2 separate regions of the Homo sapiens genome follow, and region 1 is linked to region 2. Evidence: fine-mapped expression QTL. A gene starts in region 2. The other region holds a variant in brackets. All regions are shown on one strand. Distances are between the middles of the regions.

What was found.
Region 1: its variant is fine-mapped to the expression of DRD4 in prostate (GTEx, PIP above 0.99).

The regions. Positions count from the first base shown.
Region 1 is chr11:682,354-687,718 of GRCh38, reverse strand. DEAF1 (DEAF1 transcription factor) reads left to right here. Exons shown (of 12, transcript NM_021008.4): 5 at 722-861; 6 at 2,756-2,821. Among named protein-coding and RNA genes, the nearest start is that of DEAF1, 10 kb to the left of the region's middle. RefSeq lists enhancers at 132-632, 633-1,133. The variant C/G (reference allele first, on the strand shown) is at 2,078.
Region 2 is chr11:635,175-640,539 of GRCh38, reverse strand. It overlaps DRD4 (dopamine receptor D4), which reads right to left and starts at 3,271. Exons shown (of 4, transcript NM_000797.4): 1 at 2,951-3,271; 2 at 995-1,107; 3 at 234-892; 4 at 1-139. The coding sequence starts at 3,235. RefSeq lists enhancers at 1-347, 713-1,246, 1,247-1,781, 1,782-2,315, 2,316-2,850 and 3 more.

The DNA.
Region 1 (5,365 bases), 47 kb before region 2:
GAGACTATCCTGGCTAACACGATGAAAACCCGTCTCTACTAAAAATACAAAAAATTAGTGGAGCGTGGTGGCAGGCGCCTGTAGTCCCATAGTCCCAGCTACTCGGGAGGCTGAGGCAGGAGAATGGCGTGAACCCAGGAGGCAGAGCTTGCAGTGAGCTGAGATCACGCCACTGCACTCCATCCTGGGCGACAGAGCGAGACTCCGTCTCAACAACAACGACAACAAAAAAACAAGACAAAAGGTGCAGGTGACACCCAGTTCCTGTGAACTGAGCTGAGGCCTGGGAGAGGCACGGGACAGGGCTGCGCCCAGGAACCATCTGGGGGTGAAAAGCCATCGTGACCCACGGGACAGGAGACAAGCGAGAAGAAGCAGGAGGGAGGCAGGGCTGGGACGTGTTCCTCAAGTTGCCAGGTTAGCTTGGGACTTGTAGATGAAGGCTCTGGAAGTGGGTACCAGAGGTGCTCAGTGTGGGACCTGGTTGAGCTTGCACTGCCTGTGGACAGCGGGTGGAGAGATCACGTAGGGGGTCAGAGGCACAGGCTGCAAAGGCAGACCCGTGGTGGACCTGTCAGGGCCAAGTATGTGGGTGGGTGAGATCACATGAGCCGCTGGGGCGCTGGTGCTGGTGGAGGGGTTGAGGAGGCGCCAGGAGGTAGGCAATGGCAGAGGTGACGTTCCCACCTGCCATCATCATGACTGCTGCCCTTCCTTGCAGGCGGCCGGGGACGGTGCATCAAGCAGGGGGAGAACTGGTACAGTCCCACCGAGTTTGAGGCCATGGCAGGAAGAGCCAGCAGTAAGGACTGGAAAAGAAGCATTCGCTACGCGGGCCGACCCTTGCAGTGCCTCATCCAGGTATCGTCCGTGACCTCACCTGTGCTCAGCACACAGTTCAGACGTGGGGCCCTCTGAGGCGGCCCAGCCAGAGGGAGGGCACAGACCACGGGGTCAGACAAATGGGGTTTGCAGCCTCCACCTGCTGTCTGTGTGGCCTTGGGCGAGTGATTTACCCTCTCATGTTTCAGTTTCCGGGTCTTTCACGTGGGGATGACGATGATCGTGACCCTGTGAGGATTGTTGGGAGAAGTGCATGAGGTCACAGCGCCTGGCACAGAATAGCTGCAGAAAGGGGGCGTGTCAAATACACAAAAAATGAAAACAGTAGAAGTTAAGATAATCGCTTCTGTTTGAATGCGTGTGACCCTTTCAAAGTCACCTAACTTCTCGTCAGTCTACTAAGAAAAGAGGACTTCTAATTCCTATTCCAGTTTAGCTCCTTGGGTGTTGTTAAGGAAGCAATTCCTGTAGAGACTTTTGCAAATCTTGAAAGGAAAGAGGTAGGTCCTGCCACCAATAATGGCATTGTGAAAAGGAGAAGGCTCTGGAAATTACTGTTTTTGTGGTTTTTTTTTTTTTTTTTTGAGACAGAGTCTCACCCTGTTGCCCAGGCTGGAGTGCAGTGGCTTGATCTTGGCTCACAGCAACCTCCACCTCCCAGGCTCAGAGGATTGTCCCACCTCAGCCTCCTGAGTAGCTGGGATTACAGGTGCCCGCCACCACACCTGGCTTTTTTTTTTTTTTTTTTAATTTTCAGTAGAGATGGGGTTTCACCATGTTGGCCAGGCTGGTCTTGAAGTCCTGACCTCAGGTGATCTGCCTGCCTCGGCCTCCCAAAGTGCTGGGATTACAGGTGTGAGCCACAATACCCGGCCTATTTTTTTTGTATTTTTTAATAGGGACAGGGTTTCACCACGCTGGCCAGGCTAGTCTCGAACTCCCGACCTCAAGTGAGCCACCTGCCTCGCCTCTCAAAGTGCTGGGATTACAGGCGTGAGCCACAATACCCGGCCTAATTTTTGTATTTTAATGGAGACCAACCATGTTGGTCAGGTTGGTCTTGAACTTCTGACCTTAAGTGAGCCACCCGCCTCGGCCTCCCAAAGTGCTGGGATTACATGTGTGAGCCACCACACCTGGCCTGGGCATTACCTGATTTCTCACAATTTTTTTTTTTTTTGAGGCAAAGGCCTCCCTCTGTTGCCCAGGCTGGAGTGCAGTGGTGTGATCTCAG[C/G]TCACTGTAACCTCTGCCTCCCGGGTTCAAGCGATCCTCCTGCCTGAGCCTCCCAGGTAGCTGGGACTATGGGCATGCGCCACCATGCCCAGCTAATTTTTGTATTTTTAGCAGACACGAGGTTTCACCATGTTGGCCAGGCTGGTCTCCAGCTCCTGAGCTCAGGTGGTCTGCCTGCGTCGGCCTCTCAAAGTCCTGGGATTACAGGCATGAGCCACCATGCCCGGCCCTGATTTTGCAGAATTTTTATCTTTATGAGGTTGGGCACGGTGGCTTACGCTTGTAATCCCAGCACTTCGGGAGGCCGAGGCGGGCAGATTGCTTGAGGCCAGGAGTTCGAGACCAGCCTGGTCAACATGGCAAAACCTGTCTCTACTAAAAATACAAAAATTAGCTGGGTGTGGTGGTGCAAACCTATAATCCCAGCTTCTTGGGAGGCCGAGGCATGAGAATTGCTTGCGCCGGGGAGGCAGAGGTTGCACTGAGCCGAGAACGTGCCACTGCACTCCAGCCTGGGCAACCCAACAAGACTCTGTCTCAAAAAAAAAAAAAAAAAAAAGAATTTTTATATTTATGAATGGTAGGTAAGTGGTAAAAGTGGTTGAAATCTTCTATTATTGAATGATTGACATTTAGGGGCTGACTTGCTAATGCATGGTGGTTCTTTTCACATCTCAGGATGGGATCTTAAACCCTCACGCTGCCTCTTGCACCTGTGCTGCCTGCTGCGACGACATGACCTTAGTAAGTGGCCAGCGTGTCTGGAACAGGATGACTTGGTGGGGCTGGGGGCGGCTGAGTGGGTCCCACAGCCCTTGGCCTCTCGGCTGTTTCCCTCCTGCCCTCTGCCTTGGAGAGAGACACTGTCCTCACTTCTCCTGGGTTGCTCTGTTCCCTCCTCCCTGATACGTCACAGTGAATCCTGATGTCTCGATGGGGAACACGTGGTTGGCCCCCAAGATGTTGCTCAAAGAACATTTGTGGAAACCTTAAATAATGAAAAGCGGTTATAATGTCACCGCCTTAACTCTAAAACTAAACATACACGCTTTTCCTTGTATGCATGCCATTTTATATTCCTCATTTTGTAACATGTCAGAAAAATGCTACTGTAAACTTATTCATGTGTAGAGCTTTTAACGCCTTTTTGACGTATTTCCTTATTCTAAATTCTTAACTGCTTCACAAAGACCCAAAATAATTTTTCTTTCTTTTTTTTTTTCTGAGACGAAGTCTCATTCTGTCGCCCACACTGGGGTGCAGTGGCGCGGTCTCGGCTCACTGCAACCTCCGCCTCCTGGATTCAAGCACTTCTCCTGCCTCAGCTTCCCGCGTAGCTGGGATTACAGGCATGTGCCACAATGCCCAGCTAATTTTTGTATTTTTAGTAGAGATGGGGTTTTGCCATGTTGGTCAGGCTGGTCTCAAACTCCTGACCACATGTGATCCGCCCGCCTCAGCCTCCCAAAGTGTTGAGATTACAGGCGTGAGCCACTGCACCTCAAAAAAAAAAAAAAAGAGCATGGAGAGACCTACCGTGTTCTTGGGGTGAAACACTAAACATCCTAGAATTGTGTAGTTGATATATAGATTTCATGTGATTCTAGTGGAAAAAACAATTTTGTGAACGTAAAATAATTTTGAAGTTGATTGGGAAAAGCCAGTCGGTGAGACTCTTAGAGACGCTGCAGGAGTAAAGGAGCCGGGAGGAGACGTCGGTCCCATTGGCAGTTGAGCCTGCAGGTAGATCATTTGCAGGGGCTCCAACACTGAAGTACTTAGATGTCAGTCTAGGAAATCATGTACAGGGTTTGTACGTGGAAGATACTAAAGAAAATGCTGAAGAGAGAGACCAGGGAAGATTGAAATACGTCAAAAGACGTCCTGCGCCCGTGGATTAGAAGACTCAGTAAAGATGCGACTTTTTCCCAAGTTGATTCGTAGGTTTAACACAATGACTATCAAAATCCCAGCAGGATTCTTTTTAGATGCAGACAAGCTGATTCTAAAATTTGCATAGAAAGGTAAAGGAAATAAAAAAGCCAAAACAGTTTTGAAACAAAAAAGCCAAAACAGTTTTGAAATAAAAGTTTAAAATGGGTGGAATCACATTGCGGGGTCTTAAGACTTACGGGCTCGTGACAGTAATCAAGATAGTGTGGCACTGGCAGAGGGAGAGACCCCACGATCTGGGTCAGACTAGAGTGTCATAGTAGACTCCAGCAAATGGCCTTGGAGTGACAGGACGTTCATCAGCAGAGACAAAGGATGACCTAAACTTCACACTTGGTACAAAAATGAATTCAAAATGGGTCATCGATCTAAAGTGAAAGGTGAAACTATAACATTTTTAGGAGAAAACACATTGGAAAATCTTCCTGACCTGGAGTTAGAACTAGGATTTCTTGGATTGGACTTCATCAAATTTTAGAACTTTTGGCTTCCGCTTGGGGAGTGGTGGTGTGATGAGCTCAGTGGACCAACTCTCCAGAGAAATAACTAGTGAAAATTGTGAAAAAATAACCCCTTAAGGTCTCCAGAAATTGTCCTAGGGGAGTACAGCAAATAAACATCCAAGAAAATGTAGTAAGTCTTGGAAAGGGCAGTGAGGATTGTGACGTTTGAGCTACGACCAGCTCCTTCCCTCCCTTTCTGCCCCCAGCTCCCTATGGTGGAGGCTCCATTGTGGGTGGTTGTGACCAAGAAAACGGTTCCCACTCCTTGCAGTTCCCGGTCAAGGGATATGGTATCTCACTGGGAGGGGCAGGCCACCAGCATTTCTCAACCCCTTCAGCTCTAAGTTGCAGTAAATTCCTGGGAAGTGTGACTGAAAATCTCTTCAGTCATCCCCACTCAGAGGGCAGAGGCTTTACCCAGGCATGGGAGGCCAAGCATACGGAGCCCCAATTTCCATCAACCCACATTGCCCATAGGGTGGGGTGTCCATGCAGTGAGAGGCTGCTGCCCCCCACACAGAACCCGGCTAATGCAACAGAATTCCCTCTGATAGACTCAGGCACTGTTCCTGCCTCTAGGTCTATAGTAGGGGCTCAGACATTCAGCCCAAAAGAGAGAGAGGCCGTAAGAACAGAGAGCTCCAAAGCCCCTCCCAAAGGAACTGACTTGATTTGAAACAGTATGGGGATGTTCAAGCCTAAAAGTGCCCTGGAAAAGAATGGACATTTTGATGGTAAGCAGTTAAGAGGAGGCCAGCAGTTCCATTAGAGCAAGAAACTAAACTGTAGGTCAGCAGGTTTACCAGAGAGGCGAGGAAAGCCACAGCGAAGA
Region 2 (5,365 bases):
ATGACGGGGTTGAGGGCGCTGTTGACGTAGCCCAGCCAGGTGACGGCGCTGACCAGCCGCGGGGGCACGGAGCAGGCAGGACACAGCGCCTGCGTGATGTGCACCACGAAGAAGGGCGTCCAGCACAGCAGGAAGGCCCCTGGGGGCGCCGAGAGCCGCGTTAGCGCCCCCCGCCCAGCCGGCCTCGTACCCCCCCCCTCCTCTCCTCCCCGCCCCTCAGGACAGGAACCCACCGACCACCACCGGCAGGACCCTCATGGCCTTGCGCTCCCGGCCGGTGATCTTGGCACGCCGCCTCCTGCGGGTCTGCGGTGGAGTCTGGGGTGGGAGCGCGGCGGCTCTGACGGCGTCGGGGGGAGCACAGTTGGAGCCGCAGGGGTCCGGGGGGAGGCCGGGCGCGGGGGGCGCACAGTCGGGGCCGCAGGGGTCCTGGGGGAGGCTGGGCGCGGCGGGCGCACAGTCGGGGCCGCAGGGACCCCGGGGAAGGCCGGGCGCGGGGGGCGCACAGTCGGGGCCGCAGGGGTCCTGGGGGAGGCGGGGCGCGGGTGGCGTGGGGGAAGGCGGGCCAGGGCCGCTGGGTCGGCGGGGCGCGCGGCCGTGCAGCTTGGCGCGACGTGCCACCTCCCAGCGCTGCAGGCCGCGGAACGTGGCCCAGTAGAGCAGCAGCATGAGCGGGCAGGGTAGGAAGAAGGAGCACACGGACGAGTAGACCACGTAGTCGCGGTCCTCCAGGCGGCACACGGCGGGGTCGCGGCCGCGCACGTCGTTGAGGCCGCACAGTACGGGCGCCGCCACCGCCGCGGACAGCAGCCACGTGGCGCCGATGAGCAGCAGCTGCCGGCGGCTCCCACCCTGCCGGTTGTAGCGCAGCGGCACGGCCACGGCCACGAACCTGCGGGGAGCGCCGAGGGGGCGCCGGACAGCGCACAGGCCGCGGTGAGGGCGGCGGGCGGGGCGCGGGGGCGCCGGGGCGCGGGCGGGGAGGGCGGCGCACCTGTCCACGCTGATGGCGCACAGGTTGAAGATGGAGGCGGTGCACAGCATGACGTCCATGGCCATGAGGGCGTCGCACAGGCGGGGGCTCAGCAGCCACGCGCCACCCTGGACCTGCGCGGCGACACCACAGGCCCTGAGGTTTCCCAGCCACCGCGGGCCCTTGTGACCCGCCCCCACTCTTATGGGTAGTTCCAGGGCTGAATACGGAGAAGGGGGCCCGGCTGTGAGCCAGAGGCCAGAGGACCGGGCAGGGAAACACCCCTTCCCCACGCAGATCTCCCTTTGTTTTGAGTTAGGGTCTCGCTGTGTCACCGCGGCTGGAGTGCTGTGGCTCCATCATGGCTCACTGTAGCCTGGAATTCCTGAGCTCAAGCGATCCTCCCACCTCAGTCTCCAGAGTAGCTGGGATTACAGCCGCGCGCCACCACCCCCGGCTGATTTGTTTTTCTTTTTGTTTTTTGAGACGGAGTTTCGCTCTTGTTGCCCAGGCTGGAGTGCAGTGGTGAGATCTCAACTCACTGCAACCTCCGCCTCCCAGGTTTAAGCGATTCTGCCGCCTCAGCTCCCCCGAATAGCTGGGACAACAGCCGCAGCCACCACCCCCGGCTGATATTTTAAAATTTTTTGTAGAGACCAGGCCTGGTATGTTTCCCAGGCTGGTCTCAAACTATCCTCCTGCCTTTGCCTCCCAAAGTCCTGGGATTACAGGCGTGAATCACGGCTTCTGGCCTTGGTCTCCCTTTTGTTACAAACATGAGAACGGCCTGGGGAATTCCCTGGGGGCGGGCCTGATATCATCGGGCTCAAAGGGAGCCCCTCCCCAGCCTGGGGTAGGCAGGGTCCCCGCTGGGCCTAGAAGCGAAGCTGGCTGCTCTGTTGGCTAAGTTCTCTGTGGGAGACTCGGGCACGTTAATTCATTTCTGTTTCTTCATCTGTAAGACAAGGGTGATGATAGTATCCACATCATAATTGTCTTGAAGATAAATTATAATTAAAAATATGAAGACCGTGCCCAGTGCCCAGCGTAGGACTCCACGTGGAGTGACTCTCTCCAAGGGCAAAGGAGCAGGCAGCCCCTCTAATCCTTCCCGCCGATTTGGGGAGATTAGGAGCTTAAACGTCGTCACTGTGACGTCTGCGGCTCGAAAGGAGCACAGGTCACGCGTGTCCCGTGCTGCTGGTCTCTGCCCCAGCCGCCTGGATTCACTGTGTCCATCAAGGGGAAACCTCGAGTCCCCCTCCCCCACAGTCGGGGACACCGCGTCTCCAGCTCAGCCCTAAGCTGCTTTTCTCTGGCCGCAGAGGGGCTGGCACCAAGGCCGACCCACTCGAGGGCCAGACCTGGTGTGGAGTGTGGGCTCCATCCCCCAATTCCCCCTCAGGCTTCCCCCCAGGGTTCTCAGCAGGGGCCTGGTCCCCACACACCCTCCCCTCCCCTGGGTTTTGTCCAGCCCAGGTCTCCCCTGCGAGCTGTGAGCCTCCTTCTGGGGGTGTGCCAGCATCTGCACTAGGTGTGTGTGGTGGGCAGTGGCTGTGGCAGTGTGTGTGTGTGTGTGTCCCACGGCAGCCAGGGGGCTGAGCCTGCATCTGCCTGTCTGTCCAGCTGGCTGCCCTGGAGGTGAAATCCAGCTACGGAGGGGACTGGGCTTGACAAAGTCGCCTGTTTCCGGGGTCCCTGGATAGAAGGACGGGCATCTCCTGGATAACAGACGCCAAGACAGACGGGGAAGGAGAAGAGGAACGAGGGTCGGGGGACAGACAGCGCAGCGGGTGGAAGGTCGCGAGGTGGCGGCGGTGGGTGTATCGCCGAGGGACAAGGCGCAGCGCCCCTGCCGCCGCCCCAGCTGGAAGCTCCGCACCAGAAAGGGGCCGGGTCGCGCCGGGTCCTCCGTAGGGACAGGGACGGGGAACCGAGGAGCAGGTGAGGATGCTCGTGCGGCCGGACGCGGCTCACCTCGGAGTAGACGAAGAGCGGCAGCACCAGGAGAGCGAGGAGGAGGTCGGCGGCCGCCAGGCTCACGATGAAGGAGTTGGTGGGCGTCTGCAGGGCGCGCTCGGTGGCCACGCTCACGCACACGAGCGAGTTCCCCGCGAGCACCGCGCCGATGAGCAGCACGCCCCCCACCAGCGCCGCCGCGCCCTGCCCAGCCAGCCCCGCAGATGCCCCCGCAGATGCCCCCGCGGCCGGCCCGCGCCCAGCCAGCAGCCCGTCCGCGTCCGCGGTGCTGCGGTTCCCCATGGCGCGCCCGGGCGGGCGCTGAGCACCGCGGACAACGCCGGGTCGCAAGCCGGGGAGTCCCTCCCCTCGGGCACGCCCCGGCCGGACCCTGGTCCCGCCCCCGACCCGCCCCGGCTCAGGGGGGCCCCCGCGGCGCTCCACCGTGAGCCCAGTATTTGCTCATCTTGGAATTTTGCGCAGGGAGAGACGGGCACGTGGACGAATGCGGCGGCCCAAAGAGACGGGAATGAAGCGAGGTGGTGGCCACGGGCAGGCCAGCATCGCCCGGCGCCGCGCGGGGTCCGCGACCCGAGAAACCGACAAGGATGGAGGGGCGGCCAGACCAGGCCCTGAAGCGCGCGGGCATCGACGCCAGCGCCATCCTACCCGGCCCGTGCGTGCGTCCCGGCCCTCGGGCGCTCACCCTAGTCCACCTGGTATCTGGCAAAACCTCCCTCCCAGGCCCGTTCCGCCAGACGCAGAAAGACCTGAGCTCAGGCTCTGCCCGCCTCCCCCGCGGACTCGCCTCGACCTCGTGCGCACCCTCCACGCCCGCTCCCCCTGCCCCCGACTCCGCGCCCGACTCAACCGCCGACGCCTAGCTCATCCCGCCGCCCCCCCCCCGCAGCCTCTGGCCCTCAGCCCCCGCGACCACCACGGTCAGCCGCGGCCCCACCCGTTGCACAGTTGATCCTCGCGTGGCCGCCTCCGAAACTGGGCGGACAGCTGAGCGGTCGACCCCGCTCCCTCCTCCATTCCCTCCGGCCCAAGACCGTGAGCTAGGTAGGCGCCCCTCTGACCCTGGGCAGGGGGTCCCGGGACCGGACAGTAGGTTCGGCTCGCGAGGAGGCCAGGAGAAAGACACGACAGGCCGGGGTAGGTTCCAAACGTGCAGAAGAGAAAGTGCTTGCAAAGCGCAGCAGAGAATTCTATGGACTCTTCACCAAAGAGGGGTGACCTGTGACCTGAGAGGTATTTTCTGTAGTCTGTCACTAAGGGGCCTAGAAGACACTAAAAGGGGGCACCACTCTGTGGGACCCCAGGCGGCGCACATCCTGATGCTCTAGTCTGTTTCTGGGAGGCCTGGAGTGGAGGGGCTGTGCCAGGAATTGAGGCCCCTGACCTCGAAGGTCTGGAGGACACGGGCTAGACGGAGGCGCTGACAGGGCGTGCGTTAAAGGGAGAAATGAGGACTCTGAGAAGGAGCAGGCACCGTGAGCCTCACAGGACAAGGTCACGGGGCTGCGGGGGAAGGGCCTGCACCAGGGACAGGTGTGCACAGGCATCAGGTGCGGCCGCAGCCAGGCTCAGTCCCTCTTGTGCAGATCAGTCTGCTGCCCTTGTGAACCCTTGAGCAAAAGAAGTCACCACAGGAGAGACCACCAGGGACAGGTGTGCACAGGCATCAGGTGCGGCCGCAGCCAGGCTCAGTCCCTCTTGTGCAGATCAGTCTGCTGCCCTTGTGAACCCTTGAGCAAAAGAAGTCACCACAGGAGAGACTGGGACAGTGGAAGTTTCTTCTCTCCCAGGATGGAACCGGGGAGGGTGGCCCTGGGGTCTCCGGCTGGGCGCCAAACGGCGAGTCCAGCCCAGCCTCTGGTCGGCTTAGAGTTCCTTCAAGTAGCCCCCAAGATGTCTGCGACCACCAAGAGTGAAAACCAAGCTAGGCGGAGAAAGGATGTGTGCAGCACACATCTCTGACACACAGATCCAGAAACAATGGAAACAATGAGAAAAGACAGACAACCCCAATTTGTTTTTTTTTTTTTTTTTTTTTTGAGATGGAGTTTCACTCTTATCACCCAGGCTGGAGTGCAGCAGCACAATCTTGGCTCACTGCAACCTCCGTCTCCCGGGTTCAAGCGATTCTCCTGCCTCAGCCTTCTGAGTAGCTGGGATTATAGGCGCCCGCCACCACGCCCGGCTAATTTTTTTGTATTTTTAGTAGAGACACGGTTTCATCATATTGGCCAGGCTGGTCTCGAACTCCTGACCTCAGGTGATCCACCTGCCTCAGCTTCCTAAAGTGCTGGGATTACAGCTGTGAGCCACTGCCCCCAGCCTCCACTAAACTTCTGTTGTTTATCTGAAAATCAAATGTAACTGGATGTGATCACATCTTACTGCAATCATGGCTCACTGCAGCCTCAA